2 separate regions of the Homo sapiens genome follow, and region 2 is linked to region 1. A link means that fine-mapping ties the variant in region 1 to the expression of a gene that starts in the linked region. Tissue or cell type: cerebellar hemisphere. Region 1 holds a variant in brackets; the other region holds the start of a gene. All regions are shown on one strand. Distances are from middle to middle. Region 1 overlaps FBXO7 (F-box protein 7). Region 2 holds the start of SYN3 (synapsin III).

Region 1 (4,391 bases):
ATTGTGAGAGATCTGCAAATTTAGGTTTAGGCCACTGCTGATATCCTAAACTAAGTGAGATCTGTAATGTCTGCAAGTTAGTCAGAGGTGAGGATGGAAAGCAGCACCAGTATCCACAGGACACCAGCACCATCCATGGAGTTCTCAAGGGCCACTCAAAAAAGCCTGCATTCTGAACACTTGTTGTTTTATAGTATTTGGTGCTTCTGGTCGTCACCATGTCCTCCCACGCCCACTACACACATACACACATCCCCTGCATAGTGCAACATAACATTGCAAAGCCACAAAGAAATGTATCAGAGAACTAGTATATGGACCCAACAAAGCTTCAGGAGGACCTTGTTAGACCCAATTAAAGCCATATGGCATCTAGTGAACACATTTTTAAAAGGCTATCCTGTAGCTCAGAAATTACAAAATACCACAGAAAGAAATGTCAACAACTCCAATTCTTTACTACACATTAAGCTACTAAAAGTAACAGGCCTCAAGAAAATCGTATTATTCACTGCATTTTCTTCACTGTGATAAAAAAAAAAAACCTCAATATACATGTGTAGCAAAAAAAAAAATTCACTTGTATGTAGGACTCAAAATATTCTTGCAGCACATAACATTCCAAGCCATTTCCTTATATGCAAAACAGAATTTTTAAAAAAGCAGGAAGACATTGGCAATATTCCTATTTTCTGTAGATGCTAGTAGTGTTTTATTCCTATGTTGTGAATCAGATTGTCACTATAGCATGTTTCTACAGTTGTTTGTGTAAGTCATTTGTGTTTGGCCTTTTTCTTGTAGAAAAAATAAATCTTGAATTTTGTGTATTTAAGTCTGAAAAGCAAAATGTTCTTCAAATAAAAGGCTATCTTTGAAGAACAAGTACCTGATTAGCACTCAAAGCAGTAAAACTTTTTAAAAAGGTATCTTCTACTTAAGTTACAAATTAGGGGCTAAGTGTTCAAAACACAAGGAAAACAAAATCATAACCACCTCATCCCAGGAGCCACAAACAGGAGTCCCTAATACCAAATGGCCTTTCAACAGCATTGCTTCACAGCCCAGAAAGTTCCACCACAGAACCCAAGAAAGAGCTGCAGAGAGAGAGAAGTCGAGAGAAGAGGTGGATTTGAGTAGGTGTGTAGCCAAAGCACCCACCCCAAGTCCAGTTCAACCAAACTAGCTCTGTTTTCATTCATTTCATAAATCAGGCCTTTATTAGAAGACAGAGCGCTGCTAAAAAAAAAAAAAACAAACAAACAGAAAACCCTTACAAAAATTATCTGCCTATGCTATGTTCTCTGATAATTCTGAAATGTCCAAGTAACATTGTGTATCTGTTCTGAATATTTACTACATATCTTTCTGTAATAAAAGTCAAGACCACCATGTAATTTACACTTTTTTTTAATCTGGTAAGAACAGCATCAGAAAACAAACTTCAATCTAGAGGAGAACCAAGAGCAGGGAGATTGGCAGCCAACTATTCCCAAGGCCAACCTTGTCACAGAGGAACCTTTGGGTCATACCACCCCTAGGGCTATAAATGTATCTCTTAAAAGGTTTCTGGGAGTGCAACTCTCAACACCACAATCAGAAAATAACACTCGAGATCAGCACCCCAAGGAGTTGACATCTGTAGTTTAGAAACAAAAACAAATGGAGCTCCAGAAATGAAATTACAAATCAATCACATGAATGACAGCCGGCCATCAGTTGGCCGACCCCTGCTGGGTCTAAAGGGAAATCTGTCATTGGGGCCGCCTCGCCCTGGCAAGATGGGGTTAGGTCCTGGAAGTGGGCCAACTGGATCAAAGCGTGGTCTCAGTGGAGGAAACTGGCTGGGCGTCTCCCCAGGACCAGGAATGAGTGAACTGATTGGGTCTCCAACATAGGGAAGTGTTGGTCTTTGGTCATATTCACCCCCGATAATTCCTGGAGGAAGGCGGGAGCTAGGAAATGGCCTAGGGTGCAAGGGGTTGGGATAGAATGGAATGGTGTGAGTTGACGATGGCAGGAGCATCACAAACCGCCCTTTCGGGGATTCTTTTCTTTGTATGTGCCTCTTCCTGTACAGCTGTAGAAAAAAGAAAAATAAAAGAACAAGATAAGGTAAGTGATCTGGATGTTTCCCTTTAGTTCTAATTTGCTTTCATAGTAAAGATCTATAGGCACACCTCAG[A/C]CATATTGTGGATTTAGTCCCAAACCAATGCAATAAACCAAGTCACACAAATTTTTTTGGTTTCCCAGTGTATATAAATGCTATGCTATGTTTACACTATAGTAAGTGTGCAATAGCATTGTATCTAAAAAGACAATGTACATACCTTAATTTAAAAATATGCTAACAATCACCTGAGCCTTTAGCAAGTTGCAATCTTTTTGCTAATAGAGGGTCTTGCCTCCATGTTCGTTGCTGCTGACAGATCAGGGTGCTGGTTGCTAAAGGCTGAAGTGGCTGTGGCAATTTCTTAAAATAATACAACAGTGAAGTTTGTCACATTGACTCACTCTTCCTTTCATGAAAGATTTCTCTGTACATGCGATGCTGTTTGATGGCATTTTACCCACAGTAAAACTTTCAAAATCAGAGTCAACCTTCTCAAACCTTGCTTCTGTTTTGTCAACTAAATTTATGTAATATTCGAAATCCTTTGTTGTCCAGGAATAGATTCCATTCCAAGAAACCACTGATAAAGAAAATGTGGCATATATACACCATGGAATACTACTCAGCCATAAAAAGGAATGAAATAATGTCTTTTGCAGCAACTTGGATGCAGCTGGAGGCCATTATTTTAAGTGAAGTAACTCTAGAATGGAAAACCAAATCTTGTGAGACCTAACCTATGAGGATGCAAAGGCATAAGAATGACATAATGGACTTTGGGGACTTAGGGGGAAAGGCTGGGAGGGAGGTGACGGCTAAAAGACTACATATTGGGTACAGTTGTACACTGCTTGGGTGACGGGTGCACTAAAATCTCAGAAATCACCACTAAAGAACTCATCTATGCAACCAAAAACCACCTGTACCCCAAAAACTATTGACATTTTTTTAAAAAAAGAAACCACTTTCTCTCTTTATCCGTAAGAAGCAAGTTCTCATCCATTCAAGTTTGACTGTGAGACTGCAGCAATTCAGTCCCATCTTCAGGCTCCACTTCTAATTCTAGCTCTCTTGCTAGGTCCATCACATCTGCACTTCCTCCACTGAAGTCTTGAACCCCTCAAAGTCATCCACGAGGATTGGAATCAACTTCCAAACTCCTGTTGATATTTTTATCTCCCCCATGAATCCTCAGTATGCTTAATGGCATCTAGAAGGCTAAATCCTTTCCAAAAGGTTTTCAATTTCCTTTGTCCAGATCCATCAGAGGAATCACCATCTCTGGCAACTATGGCCTGACAAAATGTATTTCTTAAATAATAAGATTCAAAGTCAAAATTATTCCTTGATCCATGAGCTTCAGAATGCAGTTGTTTGCTGACATGAAAACGTTAATCTCCTTGAACATCTCCATCAGAGCTCTGGGATGACTGGCTGCATTGTCAATGAGCAGTAGTATTTTAAAAGGAGTATTTTTTATAAGCAGTAGGCCTCAATAGTGGACTTGAAATATTCAGTAAACCATGCCATAAATGATGTACTGTCATCCAGGCTTTGTTGTTCCATTTACAGAGCAAAGGCACAGATTTAGCATAATTCCTTTTTTTGTTGTTTTTTTGTTTGTTTTTTGAGACAGAGTCTCACACTGTCTCCTGGGCTGGAGTGCAATGGAGCGATCTTGGCTCACTGCAACCTCCACCTCCTGGGTTCAAGCGATTCTCCTGCCTCAGCCTCCTGAGTAGCTGGGATTACAGGTCCACACCACCACATCCGGCTAATTTTTTGTATTTTTAGTAGAGACAGGGTTTCACCGTGTTAGCCAAGATGGTCTCCAACTCCTGACCTCAGGTGATCCGCCCACTTCGGCCTCCCAAAGTGCTGGGATTACAGGCGTGAGCCACCACACCCGGCCTGATTTAGCATAATTGTTAAGGGCCCTAGGATTTTCAGAATGGTCAACAAGCACTGGCTTCAAAAATCACCAACTGCATTAGCCCCTAACAAAAGAGTCAGCCTGTCCTTTGAAGCTGGGCACTGACTACTTCTCTCTAGCTATGAAATAGATGGCGTCTTCTTCCAATAGAAAGCTGTCTCACCTACACTGAAAATCTGTTGTGTAATGCAGCCACCTTCATCAGTGATTTTAGCTACATCTTCTGGATAACTTGCAGCAGCTTTTCCATCAGCACTTGCTGCTCCACCTTGCAGTTTTTGTTATAGAGACATTAGAATAGTACCTTATGAAACAATACAATATATTCTTTTCATAAGGTACTATCTT
Region 2 (4,391 bases), 560 kb before region 1:
GGGAGGCTGAGGAAGGAGAATGGCGTGAACCCGGAAGGCAGAGCTTGCAGTGAGCCGAGATTGCACCACTGCAATCTCGACAATCCACTGCAATCCAGCCTGGGCGACAGAGCGAGACTCCGTCTCAGAAAAAAAAAAAAAAAAAGTTGTAGTTAATTACCAGCATTTAAAAAAACCAGAGATTTAACATAATCTGAATTTCTGGCCTCTTAATAAAAATCAGGGTCTGGTGTGGTGGCTCACGCCTATAATCCCAGCACTTTGGGAGGCCAAGGTGGGCAGATCACGAGGTTAGAAGTTCGAGACCAGTCTGGCCAACATGGTGAAACCCTGTCTCTACTAAAAATACACAAATTAGCCAGACGTGGTGGTGGGCGCCTGTAATTCCAGCTGCTTGGGAGGCAGGAGAATTGCTTGAACCAGGGAGGCGGAGGTTGCGGTGAGCTGAGATCGCACCACTGCACTCTAGCCTGGGTGACAGAGCAGGACTCAGTCTCGATAAAAAACAAACAAACAAAAAACAGAACATCTGGCAACTCTGGGTGGGTCTCCATTCACATATGGCAAAAATCAGTTGGAGCTGAGCAGTGACTGTCACCTTAGGCAGGTGTGCATACCTCAGTCTGTCACAAGCCCCATCCCTCCTTTCTATTATACCCTGCCAACCTCACTTAGTACATGACTACCCGGCCACGTCGGTATTAAAGTTTGTGATCCTTCAGCTAGTCTTATGCCCTCTTAGTTACTGAGGTTAGAGTCACTCCCTCTTAGTTACTGAGATCATGTACTAACGCTCATGCAGTAAGTGGAAGATGCTGGGTAAGAACCTTCCCGATCTTGGAAATAGTACCATTACTCCACAGTGGCTCAAGCTAAACACCTAGGAGATTTTCTTCTTTCATCCCTTTACGTCAACCCCTGTCATAGTCTATTTTGTGCCAATATAACAGAATATCACAGACTGGGTAATTTATAAGGAACAACAATTTATTTAGCTCATGGCTCTGGAGGCTGGGAAGTCCAAGATTGAGGGGCTGCATCTGGTAAGGGCCTTCATGCTGAGTCACCCCATGGCACAAGGCAGAACAAGAGAGCAGCAGAGGGGTGGGGAGAGGGCCACTCCTGGCATTAATGGAATCACCTCTTAAAGGTCCCACCTCTCAACACTGTTGCATTGGGGATTAAGTTTCCAAGATATGAACTTTGGGGAACATATTTAAACCATAGCATCCCCTAAATCCAGCCTAATCCATCATCAAGCCTTCCTGTGCTACTTTTGACACACATTGCAGGAGGTCCACCTTTTCCGTATCTTGCTGTCACCACCCTGGTCTTCATCACCATAATCTCTTGCCTGAATTGTTCCCTCCAGATTGATATGACAAAGCCCTGACCCTCACGGTGGCCTACAAGGTTCTGGGTGATGGTGATTCCACACTAGTCTACCTCTCTGGCTGTAACCCACTCTCCCCTTGCTCACCTCACTCAGCCACCCTGGGGGCCAGTTCCAGCTTCAGAACCATGCATCGGCCGACCCCTCTGTCAGCAATGCTCTTGCTTCAGCCCTGGAATCGTTTTTGTCCTCCAAGTATCCAATATCACAAGCGGCCCGGAGACCACCCTAGGTATAGCAGTCCTAGACCCCTTTCTTTTTCTTTTCTTTTTTTTGGAGACGGCATCTAGCTCTGTTGCCCAGGCTGGAGTGCAGTGGCTCTAACTCGGCTTACTGTAACTTCCACCTCCCGGGTCCAAGCAATTCTGCCTCAGCCTCCCGAGTAGCTAGGACTACAGGTGAGGGCCACCATGCCCAGCTAATTTTTGTATTTTTAGTAGAGACGGGGTTTTATCATCTTGGCCAGGCTGGTCTTGAACTCCCGACCTCGTGATTCACCTGCCTCGGCCTCCCAAAGTGCTGGGATTACAGGCGTGAGCCACAGGCACCCAGCCGACATTCTCTTGTTTTTTTCGTTTGTTGTATATAACCTACCCCCACCTCCACCCCATGCAAAGTCCACGAGGACGATAGACTTTGTCTTGTTCCCTGTTGCATCCTGGCCCTAGGGCCTAGCCCACAACCTGGGACATTTCCTGACAAGGGGCCCTGGTTTCTCTGAGGTGCCACCTGAGGTCCGGGAGGTCAGCTGACTTTCCCAAAGGTGGATTCCAAGGACACTGCATTCTTCGCACTCCCCGAGGGGCGTCTAGACACTCCTGGGACCCAGAATTATTAGCTAACTGGGCTCCTGAGTCCGGTGAGAGCTCAGAGTCTAGAAGCAACTTTCCCTGCCTGGAGAGGTGAACCCAGCAAGGCGTTGGGGAGAGGCGTGGGCGAGGGAGTGGGCGCGGGTGGGCGGGGCCGTCCGGGGGCCTCGTTGCCCGAGCCAATGGGGCGCCGCGGCGCGGGGAGGCCGGGCCGCCGGGCGGGGGCGCTCGCGCGCGTTGAGGGGCAGAGGCTGAGCTCCCGGGACCCGGAGCGGATCGACTGGCGGGCGCCGCGCCGAGGCACCACCGGGCGCCGAGTTCCTGGCGGCTCGCACGGTAAGCGGCGCGGCGCCGCAAAGTAGACTTTGTGGGGTTTCTGACAGCCGGGAGACCCCACCTCGAGCGGGGGCTGCTGGTGCGTTCTCGCGTCGGGCTGCGTCCCCTGGAGCTCCGGCTCTGTGTCCGCGGGATGCGGGCGCACGGAGGGGCAGGGAGGGAGGCAAGGAGCCGCGCACCACGGTGTCTCCCCAGGCTGCCGCTGCCGGGGCCCTGGGCCGGTCCCTGGGACAGACAGATCGGCGTGCGGGGGCCGTCTGCCGGGCCCGGGAGCCGGGGGCGCGCAAGACTGTGGATCCTAAGACTGCCTCCACCCAGCGCCCGGCCCGGGGAAGAGCTTGCGGGAAACCAGGAACCGCAGCGGCCGGACCTCTGCTCTGCGCCGGCTCCTAGGACCTGCCTTAGGTCCCCAGACCCCTCATGACCTGTTGCCTTGGGTTTGGGAGGTCAGGTTTGTCATGCCATTTCCGATTTCCAGTCATCCTGGGGGCAGGATGAAATTTCAGAGTGGTTTCCTGGCCAAGCTAGAAGCAGAGAATAGCTATGGATACAGCACCTCGTGTATCTATCCAGCACTTACTTGGCTTTTTCTGAGTGCCAGGAACTGTGCCAAGCCCTAGCAGCATGAAGAATGGCCTTTGGGGAGCTTCTGGGGCTAAGAGGGACAGTAGGAGGAGCAATTGCAGTGCAGGGTAGTGCGGAAGACTCGAGATGGAGAAGAGGACGGTGAGGAAGCCAGGAAGGTTTCAGAGAGGAGGTGAGCATTGACTGGAAGTCGGAGGTTTTGCCAGGCTGAAAAGTGTGTTGGGACTGTGAGTTGATAGGGAGCAGGAATTCCAGGTGGGTTTTCTTGTGTAAAGGTAAAGAAACTGAAAAGGTCCGGTGTCCTGACCTAGCACATCAGATAATTCTACAGCAGATAATGGAGTAGGACCGGGTCTTGCTGTAGGTAGGAAATGAGCTCTCGACATGGCAGGAAGCTAAAACCTGCACAGACCTTAAAGTGCAGCCTTAGAATATTTAGAATTTTATCCTGGAATGAAGGAGGGCCGTGGAAGAATTCTGATCAGTGATCAGGTCCCTCTGGCAGCTCTGGGGACAATGGATGGAGGCCGGAGCATCAGAAAGCTGGTAAGTTGTAGTTGTTTTCTGGTCCTTGGCTGCAAATACTCTTCCCTGCTTAAGGGAGCCCCCTCTGCCCGGGAGCCCTGCTCCCTGGCTTCTGGACATGGATTCAGGCAAAGAGATGCTGCCCGTGTAATGCTTGCTTCTGCAGCCTGCACATCATTTTGATATTGTTTCTGGAGCCTGTGACCTCAGTCTTGTCATCAGGCCTCTGAAGGGTGCCTCTGCTCTTCTTTTCTCATCTTCAAGCCCTCTGTGTGCCCTTCCCCTCTGCCTGGGCTCCCCTTTCTGTTTCACAGAGATCCAGTCTCAGCCATTGGAGGCAAGGCTGTGTGTAGATTGGTGTAGTAGAAAGAACAAGGGCTCGCTGGGAAATCAGACCAGAAAGTCACTTTAGCCATAGGCTTTGGGGACATTAGCAACCTTCATGAACCTTCTTTTTCTGATTTAAAAGGAAATCATTGTACTCACCTGTCATGGTTTGGGTTCCCTGGAAAAAGACTTGGCGCTTCTGAGATTTTTGTGCAGATAAGGGAAGCAGAACTGGGCAGAGGGAGATGTTGATCTATGGTGCAGTGCAAGAGAGGTCTCAATCCCTCCCATGAGACAAAGAGACGAGGCCTTTGAAGCTTAATGTTGATCAGCCAGTGGGTGCAGGCTGGTCCTAGGGAGGGAGCTAGGATGTCCCTTCAGCAGGACAGTTCCTGACTAGGGACTCACCTGGGAGC

The links. PIP is the estimated chance that this variant, and not a neighbour inherited with it, causes the effect. A credible set is the group of variants that fine-mapping cannot tell apart.
Region 2: it holds the start of SYN3, and the variant in region 1 is the best candidate, but not a certain one, in a credible set for the expression of SYN3 in cerebellar hemisphere (GTEx, PIP 0.55).

Annotation. Positions count from the first base shown.
Region 1 is chr22:32,495,830-32,500,220 of GRCh38, reverse strand. FBXO7 (F-box protein 7) reads right to left here. Exons shown (of 9, transcript NM_012179.4): 9 at 1,392-2,077. The coding sequence ends at 1,691. Among named protein-coding and RNA genes, the nearest start is that of FBXO7, 23 kb to the right of the region's middle. RefSeq lists a cis regulatory region at 1,131 and an enhancer at 1,047-1,216. The variant A/C (reference allele first, on the strand shown) is at 2,183.
Region 2 is chr22:33,056,439-33,060,829 of GRCh38, reverse strand. SYN3 (synapsin III) reads left to right here and starts at 2,449. Exons shown (of 14, transcript NM_003490.4): 1 at 2,449-2,538.